Regions from separate parts of the Homo sapiens genome. Here region 1 is linked to region 2. Evidence: fine-mapped expression QTL. A gene starts in region 2. The other region holds a variant in brackets. All regions are shown on one strand. Distances are from middle to middle.

Evidence for each region. PIP is the estimated chance that this variant, and not a neighbour inherited with it, causes the effect.
Region 1: its variant is the best candidate, but not a certain one, in a credible set for the expression of LRRC15 in tibial artery (GTEx, PIP 0.88).

What each region holds. Positions count from the first base shown.
Region 1 is chr3:194,347,101-194,352,472 of GRCh38, forward strand. It overlaps CPN2 (carboxypeptidase N subunit 2), which reads right to left and starts at 4,228. Exons shown (of 2, transcript NM_001080513.4): 1 at 4,142-4,228. RefSeq lists an enhancer at 3,704-4,553. The variant C/T (reference allele first, on the strand shown) is at 2,031.
Region 2 is chr3:194,366,817-194,372,188 of GRCh38, forward strand. LRRC15 (leucine rich repeat containing 15) reads right to left here and starts at 2,927. Exons shown (of 2, transcript NM_130830.5): 1 at 2,845-2,927. RefSeq lists an enhancer at 2,386-3,350.

The DNA.
Region 1 (5,372 bases), 20 kb before region 2:
GAGGTTTTCTGCTCCTCATCTGGGAATAAGACCATCAAATGCCCACAAATATGTTCCACACTTTCGGCAAGCCAAGGAAGTCTGGCTTTTTAAATGGGGTTTTTTTTTTTTGAGGGATAGGGAAGGTTTGGCTGGGTGCAAATGAGCTCCTTCCTCTCCTCACATTGCTTATGGGAGGGTACGTTTCTGTGCATGCCTCAAGCCAGTCTGTCATCCACCACAGAGCTAAGCCTCACTTCTTCCAGAGGGTGATGGGACCTAGAATGGGGCCTAGAACCCTGGCCCCAGACACCCAGGGACTGCCACCCGACGCTGGCTCCATGGATGTCTGCCTCACCAACGGGCCTGGATTTGGCCATTTGGGCTCCAGCTCAGCTGGAAGCACAAAGAGGGGCTTCTGAGACTTATCCAGAGTCCCTGGCTGCTCCCCAAGCCTGGTCCCCTCTCTTCTCAATCCAGCAACGTAAGTCCAGTGGCTGAGACGGTCAGGTTTGCACTGGGTTCTAGCCTCTGCTCCTGCCTTGGCCAGCCCACCCCACCCTCTGCCCAGTTCAGCCCACCCCATCCGCTGCCCAGTTCAGCCCACCCCACCCTCTGCCCAGTTCAGCCCACCCCATCTGCTGCCCTGGCCAGCCCACCCCACCCTCTGCCCAGTTCAGCCCACCCCACCCTCTGCCCAGTTCAGCCCACCCCATCCGCTGCCCAGTTCAGCCCACCCCATCCTCTGCCCAGTTCAGCCCACACCACCCACTGCCCAGTTCATCCCACCCCATCCGCTGCCCAGTTCAGCCCACCCCATCCTCTGCCCAGTTCAGCCCACACCACCCGCTGCCCAGTTCAGCCCACCACCCCCGCCCAGTTCAGCCCACCCCATCCTCTGCCTAGTTCAGCCCACCCCATCCGCTGCCCAGTTCAGCCCACCCCACCCTCTGCCCAGTTCAGCCCACCCCATCCGCTGCCCAGTTCAGCCCACCCCATCCTCTGCCCAGTTCAGCCCACACCACCCACTGCCCAGTTCATCCCACCCCATCCGCTGCCCAGTTCAGCCCACCCCATCCTCTGCCCAGTTCAGCCCACACCACCCGCTGCCCAGTTCAGCCCACCACCCCCACCCAGTTCAGCCCACCCCATCCTCTGCCTAGTTCAGCCCACCCCATCCGCTGCCCAGTTCAGCCCACCCCACCCTCTGCCCAGTTCATCCCACCCCATCCGCTGCCCAGTTCAGCCCACCCCATCCTCTGCCCAGTTGTGTCCCAGGGAGTGAAGCCACCTCTCAGAGTCCCAGTCTGCGACTGTAAACCAAGAACGACCATGATAACAATAATCATCATAATACCTCAGTCCCGGCATGGTTAGGGCTATTGTGACTCTCAAATGAGAGAACAGGCATTGGGCCGCAGCAAGAAAATAGAAACAACCTAAATGTCCAACATGAGGGATTGGTTACATGAATCATGCTACTCGGATGTAATGGAAACCCTCTCTGCTATGTTTAAAATTATATTACAGGCTGGGTTCAGTGGCTCATGCCTGTCATCCCAGCACTTTGGGCGGCAGAGGCAGGAGGATTGCTTGAGGCCAGGAGTTTGAAATCAGCCTGGGCAACATGGTAACATCTCATCTCTTCAAAAAATTATAAAAATTACCCAAGCATAGTGGTGCATGCTTGTAGTCTCAACTACTCGAGAGGCTGAGGTGGGAGGACGGCTTGAGACTGGGAGGTCGAGGCTGCAATGAGTGGGTGATTGCTCTACTGCACTCCAGCGTGAGAAGGGGGAGACCTTGTCTCAAAAAAATAGAATAAAAGATAAAATTTTAAACAAAAAGAAAATTTATTATAGATGTGTATTTATGGACAAGATGTTTGCAATATCTTAAGTGAAATATATGAAGTCTCAGAATGCTGCTTTTCCATTTTTAAGGTGTATTTGTACACAGAAAACATAATAGAAGCTTATGTACAAAATATTTGTGGTGGGGTCTGGCACTGTGGCTCACACCTGTAATCCCAGCACTTTGGGAGGCTGAGG[C/T]GGGAGCATCACCTGAGATCAAGAGTTCAAGACCAGCCTGGCCAACATGATGAAACCCCGTCTCTACCAAAAATACAAAAATTAGCTGGGCGTGGTGGTGTGCGCCTGTAATCCCAGCTACTCGGGAGGCTGAGGCAGGAGAATCGCTAGAACCCGGGAGGCGGAGGTTGCAGTGAGCCGAGATCGCACTATTGCACTCCAGCCTGGGCAACAAGAGAGAAACTCCATCTCAAAAGAAAAAAATTTGTAGTCATTACCTCTGAAAAATTGAATTGTGGATGATTTTAATTTTTTCCTTCTGCTTAAAAATATATGTTCCACATTTTTAAGTAAGAAACATATCACTTTTGCAGTAAGGTTGAAACCTATTTTATTCTAAATATTGAGATAAACATGTAAAATGCACAGCACAGTTCCACACACACAGTAGGGGCTTACTTGACTCTTTCCTTCCTGGCAGTGATGTTGCAAAGGCCCGAGGGAGCTTGTCTATCCTCTGTGTTAGCTTCTGGAAGAGAAGACAGCTGACAGGTTGAACTAAGAGGCCGTTGTGAACTGGGCACTATGCGACCCTCCCAATTTATACCCACCCTCCCAGTCCAGTGCAAGTCACACTTCCCCCATGAAGCCTTCCTGACTACCCTCTTCTTTTTTTTTTTTTTTTTTTTTTTTTTTTTTTTTTTTTTTTGAGACAGAGTTTCACTCTTGTTTCCCAGGCTGGAGTGCAGTGACGCCATCTCTGCTCACTGCAACCTCTGCCTCCCGGGTTCAAGCGATTCTCCTGCCTCAGCCTCCCGAGTAGTTGGGATTACAGGCGCCTGCCACCACATCTGGCTAATTTTTGTATTTTTAGTAGAGATGGGGTTTCACTGTGTTGGCCAGGCTGGTCTCGAACTCCTGACCTCAGGTGATCCGCCTGCCTCGGCCTCCCAAAGTGCTGGGATTACAGGCGTGAGCCACCGCGCTCGGCCCTTTCTTGGGTCCTCGGATCCCTCTTGTACTGTGTTGAATGTTTGGGCTCTTCCGCTCTGTTTTCTAGTCAGTTGCACCCACCCGACTGAGCCCGTGGTACTGCAGTCTTGCTGTGGTGTCTCTGCAAGCAGCTCTGCACCCCAGCACCTGGCTCGGGGCCAGGCACTGAGAAGGCAGTCAGGCCCTGTGTGCTGAATTGAAGGAATGTGTTTGTGGCTTTCAGTGACTTCGCATCTCAGGCCTTACTCTCATCCTGCTTAGTAGCAGGGGAAAGCACTTTAGCTCCGCCAGTGCCCCCAGCTGGGATCAGATTCTGACGCCATCACCTACTAGCGGTGTGGGCTTGTGCAAATCACTCCAACTCTCTAAGCCTCAGGTTTTCCAGACTTAATTATCACCTCTGCCCTCAGAGTTCAAATTAGCACTCCATTGGATGATAAATAGGCTAAATAAGATAGTAAATAGAAAGCCCTTAACACAGCGCCTGGCACATACTGAATGTTCAATAAAAGGTGGCCCCCTGCAGGTTTATTTCACCACAAACTTTATTATATGAGCCAGCACGCTTCTGGGAAGGAAACCAGGAGCTAGTCATCCTTGGGCCTGAGCTGGGTGCTGTGGCATGCGCTTGTAATCCCAGCTACTCAGCAGGCTGAGTGGGAGGATCGCTTGAAGCCAGGAGTTCAAGACCAGCCTGAGCAACATAACAAGACCCCCATCTCAAAAAACAATAATTATATTAATAAATAATTAATAATATTTAGTATTAATATAGGATTAATAAGTAATTAGTAATACTATTTATTATTATTATGCCAAGATGACAAGTATAAACTAGGCAGAACCAGGCCAACCTGGACATCTGGTCACCCTGCTTATCCTCTACTCACTACCAGCCTTGTAGGCCAGGACTGGCAGATCTTCATCTCACAAACCCCCGCCCCACCTTCCTCCTGCCTCTTCCCAGCAGCGCCCTAGCTGAGCACCTCAGGGACTTCTCCTCCCGGGGCAGGGGCCCCCCAGAACCGCAGCCTGCCTGGAGCTGCGGAATGCTCTGAAACGGGGGAGATCGCAAGTTCCCGTTCCTGCCCCCACGTCCCTGCAGACCCTGGAGCCCTTCAGCGACCCCGGGAGCCTACCGTGAGGGCCGAGCGGGTGGCGCCGGGCTGCCCTGTCTTCCTCAGGAGCAGAGAGGAGTCTGGTGTGGCCTGTGGTCAGCTCAATCCAGCCCCAGCGCTGATCAAAGTTCCAGGCAGTGGTTCCTCCCCTCACGTGGCCCCAGCGTCCCAGAATGTCACCAGGGTCACAGGACGGGAGAGGGCCTTGGCAAGGCCTCTGAAGATTACAAAATGACCCTGAACTCCTCCCATGTACAGAGCCCTGCCGGGGCCAAAATCCCACCGAGGTTGCAGGGTTGGCACCTTCAGGACCCCGAGGACACTCAGAAAGCTCTAGAGATTCCCGCAGGCGGCTGGGTTGGTGAGGCCTGGGATGGGGTCCACGCTCACACCCATACCTGTGAGCAGAGGCAGAGGGACTGGGAGCCTGCCTTCAGCCTCAGGCCCCTGCTGGGCTCTCAGCGCCCGGAGGCATTTCAAGAGGGCTGTGGATTTGTTGTTTTGTCTTGTTGTGTTTGTTTGCTTGTTTAATGAATGAACTTTCTAAACCCTTCCTGAATTAGAAGGGGGAAAAGCTATAGGGAGATGAATTGGGGCCCAATATGGAGAGGAGCGCTCACACACTCAGGGCTGGCCGAGGACGAAAGATGCTGCTTTGGAAGGGAGGGATTTTCCCATCTCCGGAGGTGTGGAACCAGGGCTGCAAGACACACGGAGTGTGTGTGTGCTGAGTGCGTGCATCTGGGGGTGTGCATGTAAGTGGGTGTAAATGTGAGTGGCTGTAGGGGGTGTGTGGTGAGTGCATGTGTGGGGGTGTGTTGTGTGTGTAAGTGGGTGTATGTGTGAGTGGGTGTGTGCGCGCGTGGGTAGGGTGTGTGTGTGGTGAGTGCGTGTGTGGGTGCGTGTGTGGGTGTATGTGTGAGTGGGTGTAGGGGTGTGTGTGGTGAGTGCGTGTGTGGGGGTGTGGTATGTAAAGAGGGTGTATATGTGAGTGGGCGTGTGTATGTGAGTGTAGGAGTGTGTGTGGTGAGAGCACATGTGTGATGTGTGTGTAAGTGGGTGTATGTGTGAGTGGGTGTAAAGGTGTGTGTGGTGAGTGCGTGTGTAAGTGGGTGTAGGGGAGTGTTTGGTGAGTGCATGCGTGTGGGTGTGGGGTGTGTGTGTGTAAATGGGTATATGTGTGAATGGGTGTAGCGGTGTGTGTGGTGAGTGCGTGTGTAAGTGGGTGTATGTGTGAATGGGTATGTAAGTG
Region 2 (5,372 bases):
AAGCTGAGGGGGTCCCCAGGGAGCAGAGACTTGCCCAAGGTCACACAGTCCGTTGGGGACTCCTGACACCCGATCAGGGCCCCTAACTACAGAGTTTGGCAAATCCCTGAGCCTCATCACCGGGATTTGGGACCTTGTCAACCACACGCCTGGCAGGGCCTGGGATTGGGGAGGAGGTGGATTTGCACCCTCCAGCTTAAATCAACTGAGGCTCATACAATCCACCTTCCCCCTGCCCAGCATGATTCGCCAAGGGCAAGTGCTTATTTCAACTACCAGGCTGCATGGGTTCAGGGATTTCTTCTTTAAGGCTGCTCTGATGCTGGTGTTTGTTCAATTCCACCTGAGTCTCCTGGAGGACTGTAGGGAAGGGACAGAGGGTTCACCAGAAGGTGTTGACCCCTGTAATCTCAACAACAAGGCTGGAGATGGAGTCAAGGCTGCAGATGGATTTGTGATGAGGGGTGTGTGGATCTTTATTTTTTTATTTTTATTTATCTATTTTTTTTGAGACGGAGTCTTGCTCTGTCACCCAGACTGATGTGCAGTGGTGTGATCTCTGCTACTGCAAGCTCTGCCTCCCGGGTTCACACCACTCTCCTGCCTCAGCCTCCCGAGTAGCTGGGACTACAGGTGCCCGCCACCACACCCGGCTAATTTTTTGTATTTTTAGTAGAGACAGGGTTTCGTCGTGTTAGCCAGGATGGTCTTGATCTCCTGACCTCATGATCCTCCCGCCTCGGCCTCCCAAAGTGCTGAGATTACAGGCGTGAGCCACCGCGCCCGGCCAGTGTGTGGATTTGAAACTGGGACAGCTGCACCTTTACCTGTGTCTCTGCTCAAATGTAGAGGCAGGACCTGGGGCCAAGGTCACAGGCCCCTGATTTGGGAATACTCCACCCCAAACAGAAACCTTCCTTGAACTCCAAAGCAAGACTGGCCACACCCTCACCGTCCACCTTGATCAAGCGGGGACCCGCGTCTCTCATCTCTCATGGCCCTTCAAAGCCAACATGTTGCTTATTGTTTGAAAACAGAAAATCAGTTAAAAAGCGCAATTCCTTTCCAGCCCTTCTGTTGGGGATCCTCCCAGGTCTGGCTTCCTGCAGAGGCCAGAGCAGGACTGTCATTAGCCTGGCAAGGGTGGCAGGAGAAACTGACAAACCGCCCAGCAGAACAGGAGAACTGCCCCAAAAGGGCTCTTATGACAGCAGCCACGGGCTACAAACAGCCCCCTTCTCAGGCGGGCACCTGGGATCCCAAAGTAGAGAGAAATGGATCAGCCCCTGATCAAAGCATCTGGAAGCAGGTTCTAATTTCTGTGTCCAAAAGCCAAGACAGGCCATAAATCTGAAGCAGCAGTGACTCCTTCGTGGTCAGGATTCAGGGCAGCAAATTGCCATGTGTGATCACAGTCTGCTTACTGGCAGGACTGAGTCGGGACAGCTCCTCCCCCACCCCTTATTCTCCACGGCTGGATCTATTCTACCTCGCCTCACCACCCCGCCATTTACTGAGCGAGCTAAGGGAGTGTTCCCTAGCCCTGGGAAGAACCTTCCATGACCTGACTGTCTGTCGAATCTATCCAGAACTTACCCTGGCCCCGAACCCTCTCACATGCCTGCCTCATCACTGCTGAGCCCGCCCAGCTGACTCAAGACCACAGGCAAATTGGGCTGTCTGGCCCTGAATTTACTCCAGATGTTCAGTCTCTGCAGAATGAAGGAAGTGCCAGCCGTTAGAGCACTTCTAAATTAAGGAGCCAGTGGCAGCAACACATCTGAGAGCTGCCCAAGGTAAAGTGACGCATCCCAGATAACCCCAAAGGAGAAGCTGGCACGTGGCAGACAGGCACCTGGCACCTGCGACTGGAGCACACGTGTCATCTCAGAGAGAGTGCAGCTGCACCGAGGTGATGCCCTGGGCCCGGGAGGTGGAATGGCTCTTGCACTTTGGCAGGGGTGGGAGAGTCCTGAAAGCTCTGGTTTTCCACAGTTGGTTTCTTGGCCCCAGGTCCTGCCTCTACGTTTGAGCAGAGACACGGGTCAAGGTGCAGCCGTCACAATTTCAAATCCACATACCACCTCATCACAAATCCATCTCCTGCCCTGACTCCCTGCTCAAAGCCTCCAGGCTCCACAGAGGCCGACGCTTCCAGCAGGAGAGAGGGGAAACTGCCAGCATAGTGTCCCCTAAGCCACACTGTTAGAGCCTGAACAATGCTGAGCCCATGTCCGAATTCCAAATTGGAACTGCAAACCAGGGACCAGCACATCTGCTGAAGTTACACTTGCAGGAGTTATCCATCTATGCAAAGCAGACAGCTCTCTTGCCTGGGAAACCCCCATGAAGGAAGGTCTTGGGCAGAACCAAATGCGGGGCAGACCACTGGGAGCCACCAGGGCAAGTGCCAGGAAAGATGGCACAGGCGCAAATAATCTGAACCTTAAAAAGAGAAGTTCTTCCCCCAGTGGATCTAGATTCCAGAACGGTCAATCCAGTGACAAGGGGGGTGATAATTTAGTCCACTTTCAGCCCAACTTGCTGGTCTCAGACATCTCAGCACCCCAGGTTGACATCATGAGCCGCTCAGGGCAAGGGGCATAAGAGGCTGTTGAGGCATCAGCAGAGGGGCTGGTGGTCCTGGTGTCCAGGCAGTGAGGGAGACAGGCTTGCACCCCTCCAGCACAGGCTGCTTCTGTCCCTGTCCCGAGAGCATCCCCAGGCACATGTCAGCTCTGCCCCTTCTGGGGTCTCCGAGGGGAGCAGGTCCAGCAGAAATGGGAAGGGGCTGGCCGGGCCCTCTAAGCAGAGAGGAGGGATGGGGGTGGCTTGCCTACTTACCAGCAGCTCGGCGCCCGCCCGCCGTGGACAAGAGGGAGCCTGAGAGGAGGACGAGGGACGGCTCAAGGCTGCAGCATGAGTGTGGCTCGCCTAAGCTGTCCCGGTATTTAAACTATCCCGGGCGTGAGTCACTGCAGAGGGCAGTGTTGGCCCTGGGAGGGGGGACTGTGGGCCACAGTGCAGTGCCTGCATGTCCCGGGCTGACACTACAGGGTACACATAGCTGGCATCCCTAAATGTAAGGGGTTTGCTTCAACCGTATTTAAAAACTCAGGACACATTTTCCTCTTTCCTTCTTTCCCCCAGTGTATCTTTTGGATTCCTTCACTGCATTGGCCACCGTGAGAGGGGAGTTTACAACGACCCGGTAAACCCCTCCCTAAGTGACTGTGGACCCCCTGCTGCCCTGCCCTGGCCAAGGAGACAAGGACCCCGAGAAAGGGATGGAGCAGGATTCAGGGGCGTTTCTTTGCTCCTAGAAGTATTGGCAAGTGCTTCTCCCTGTGGTTCTAGAAAACTTATTCATTCTTCTCTTTCTTTCTTTCTTTCTTTCTTATTTTAAACTTTTTATTTGGCTTTAAATTTACAGACAATTAATGTGTTTCATCTGTTGTTAACATTTTGGAAGAAGCATTTACTTTAGATTCCAAGGAAAAATATAATTACGACCACTGTGTCCCCTCTAAAAACAGCATTTCCGATTTCCTTGTGATGCTGGGGTCTTTGCCATTACTGCTGCTCTGAGAGGTGCAGGCACACACATCTCTGGCTTGGGGACGGGCAATCAAGGGGCATATTTGGGCGTGAGGAGCTTCCCTATGCCCCTCACCTCTGCATTACAGCCCACACACTGCTGCCCTCTCTACCCCCGTCCCCAGTGGGGACAAAACTGTTTCTATTTGTGGTATCCCCAAAAAGGCCTGGGGAAGAGGATACAGGAATCATAGTTGGAGGGGCGGGAAGGCTTCCAAACCCCGGCTTCTCCTCCGAGATGGAGCCTCAACAAGGCCTGAGCTGCCCCAGGCTGAAGCCACCCTGCCTTTGCCTGGCTCGGTTTACCCTCTCAGCTAAGTGGGGAGAGTGATATTTACACACAGTGCCTCATGGAGTGCCAAGAGGCTTAATTAATATTTGCGCTGTGTTTTGAGATCTGCGATGAAAGGAAGATATAAAAGTGCGTAGTGTTATTACTGAAATAGTTGCTTGGGTGGCTTGTCATGGTCAAGACCTACAGCCTGAATCACGCCACATTCCTCCTCACTGTGGCACCGTGATTCAGAGCCGGAAACAAAAAGTGTCTTGTCCACTAAATAACAGGAGCCCAGGAGGGGCAGGCACTGCTTGGAGTGGCTCCACACAGCTTGAAGCCCCATCCCTTCCCCCACCAGCCTTGTTCCCACGTGCAGAACACCTTCCCTCTTACGGCCCTGATTCCTCCACGTTCCCAAATCAGGTACTTTAACTTTTCTCTTTTTTTTTTTTTTTTGAGACGGAGTCTCACTCTGTCACCCAGGCTGGAGTGCAATGGCGCGATCTCGGCTCACCGCAGCCTCCGCCTCCTGGGTTCAAGCGATTCTCCTGCCTCAGCCTCCTGAGTAGCTGGGATTACAGGCACGCACCACCAGGCTCAGCTAATTTTTGTATTTTTTGTAGAGATGGGGTTTCACCGTGTTAGCCAGGATGGTCTTGATCTCCTGGTCTCATGATTCTCGTGATCCACCCGCCTCAGCCTCCCAAAGTGCTGGGATTACAGACGTGAGCCACCGCGCCTGGCCACTTTAACTTTCTTTCCATAGAACCTACAAGAATAAGAATATCCCTCTTTTTCCTCTTCCATCCTCCCTAATCCTAGCACCCAAGCGCTCTGTGTCGGGCACTGTGCTGGGAGTGGTGGACAACACAGGGATGAATCGGCTGCATTTAAAGATGGCTATTTGGGAAGCACCTGCTGTGAACCAGAGACCCCTTGGGTACCTCACTGCAGCTCTCCATCATTTCACCTCCACCAGCTTTCTCGGCCTCACCACGTGACATTTGGAGGCAGATAATTCTTCATTGCAGGAGCTGTTCTACGTGTCGCGGGAGGCACCATGGCATCCCTGGCCTCTGCCCTCTAGATGCCAGCAGTACCCCCCGATCCAAAAGTAACAAAATGTCTCTAGACATTGCCAAATGTCCCCAGGAAGGGGGAGTTTACACAAACACATACACACACACACACACACACACATTCATGGTTGAGAACTACTGATCTGCCAAATAGTCCTATGAGTGGCAGTAATTACCCCCATTTCACAGACAAAAAAACTGAGGCCCAGGCCTGTTAACTAATTTCCCTGCAGCCATATGCTAAGTGACAGAGCCAGAGTCCAAGCCTAGCCCGTGGGCTCCATGCCATCTGCACACCACTGGATCCTGTGCTTGGGCACACAACCCCCATGGACGGAAGTTCGGACTGACGCAGAGCGGGGCTGGGAGAAGATGGAAGGAGTGAGGTCACTGACAGATCCTTCCTCGGGGCAAGCTTG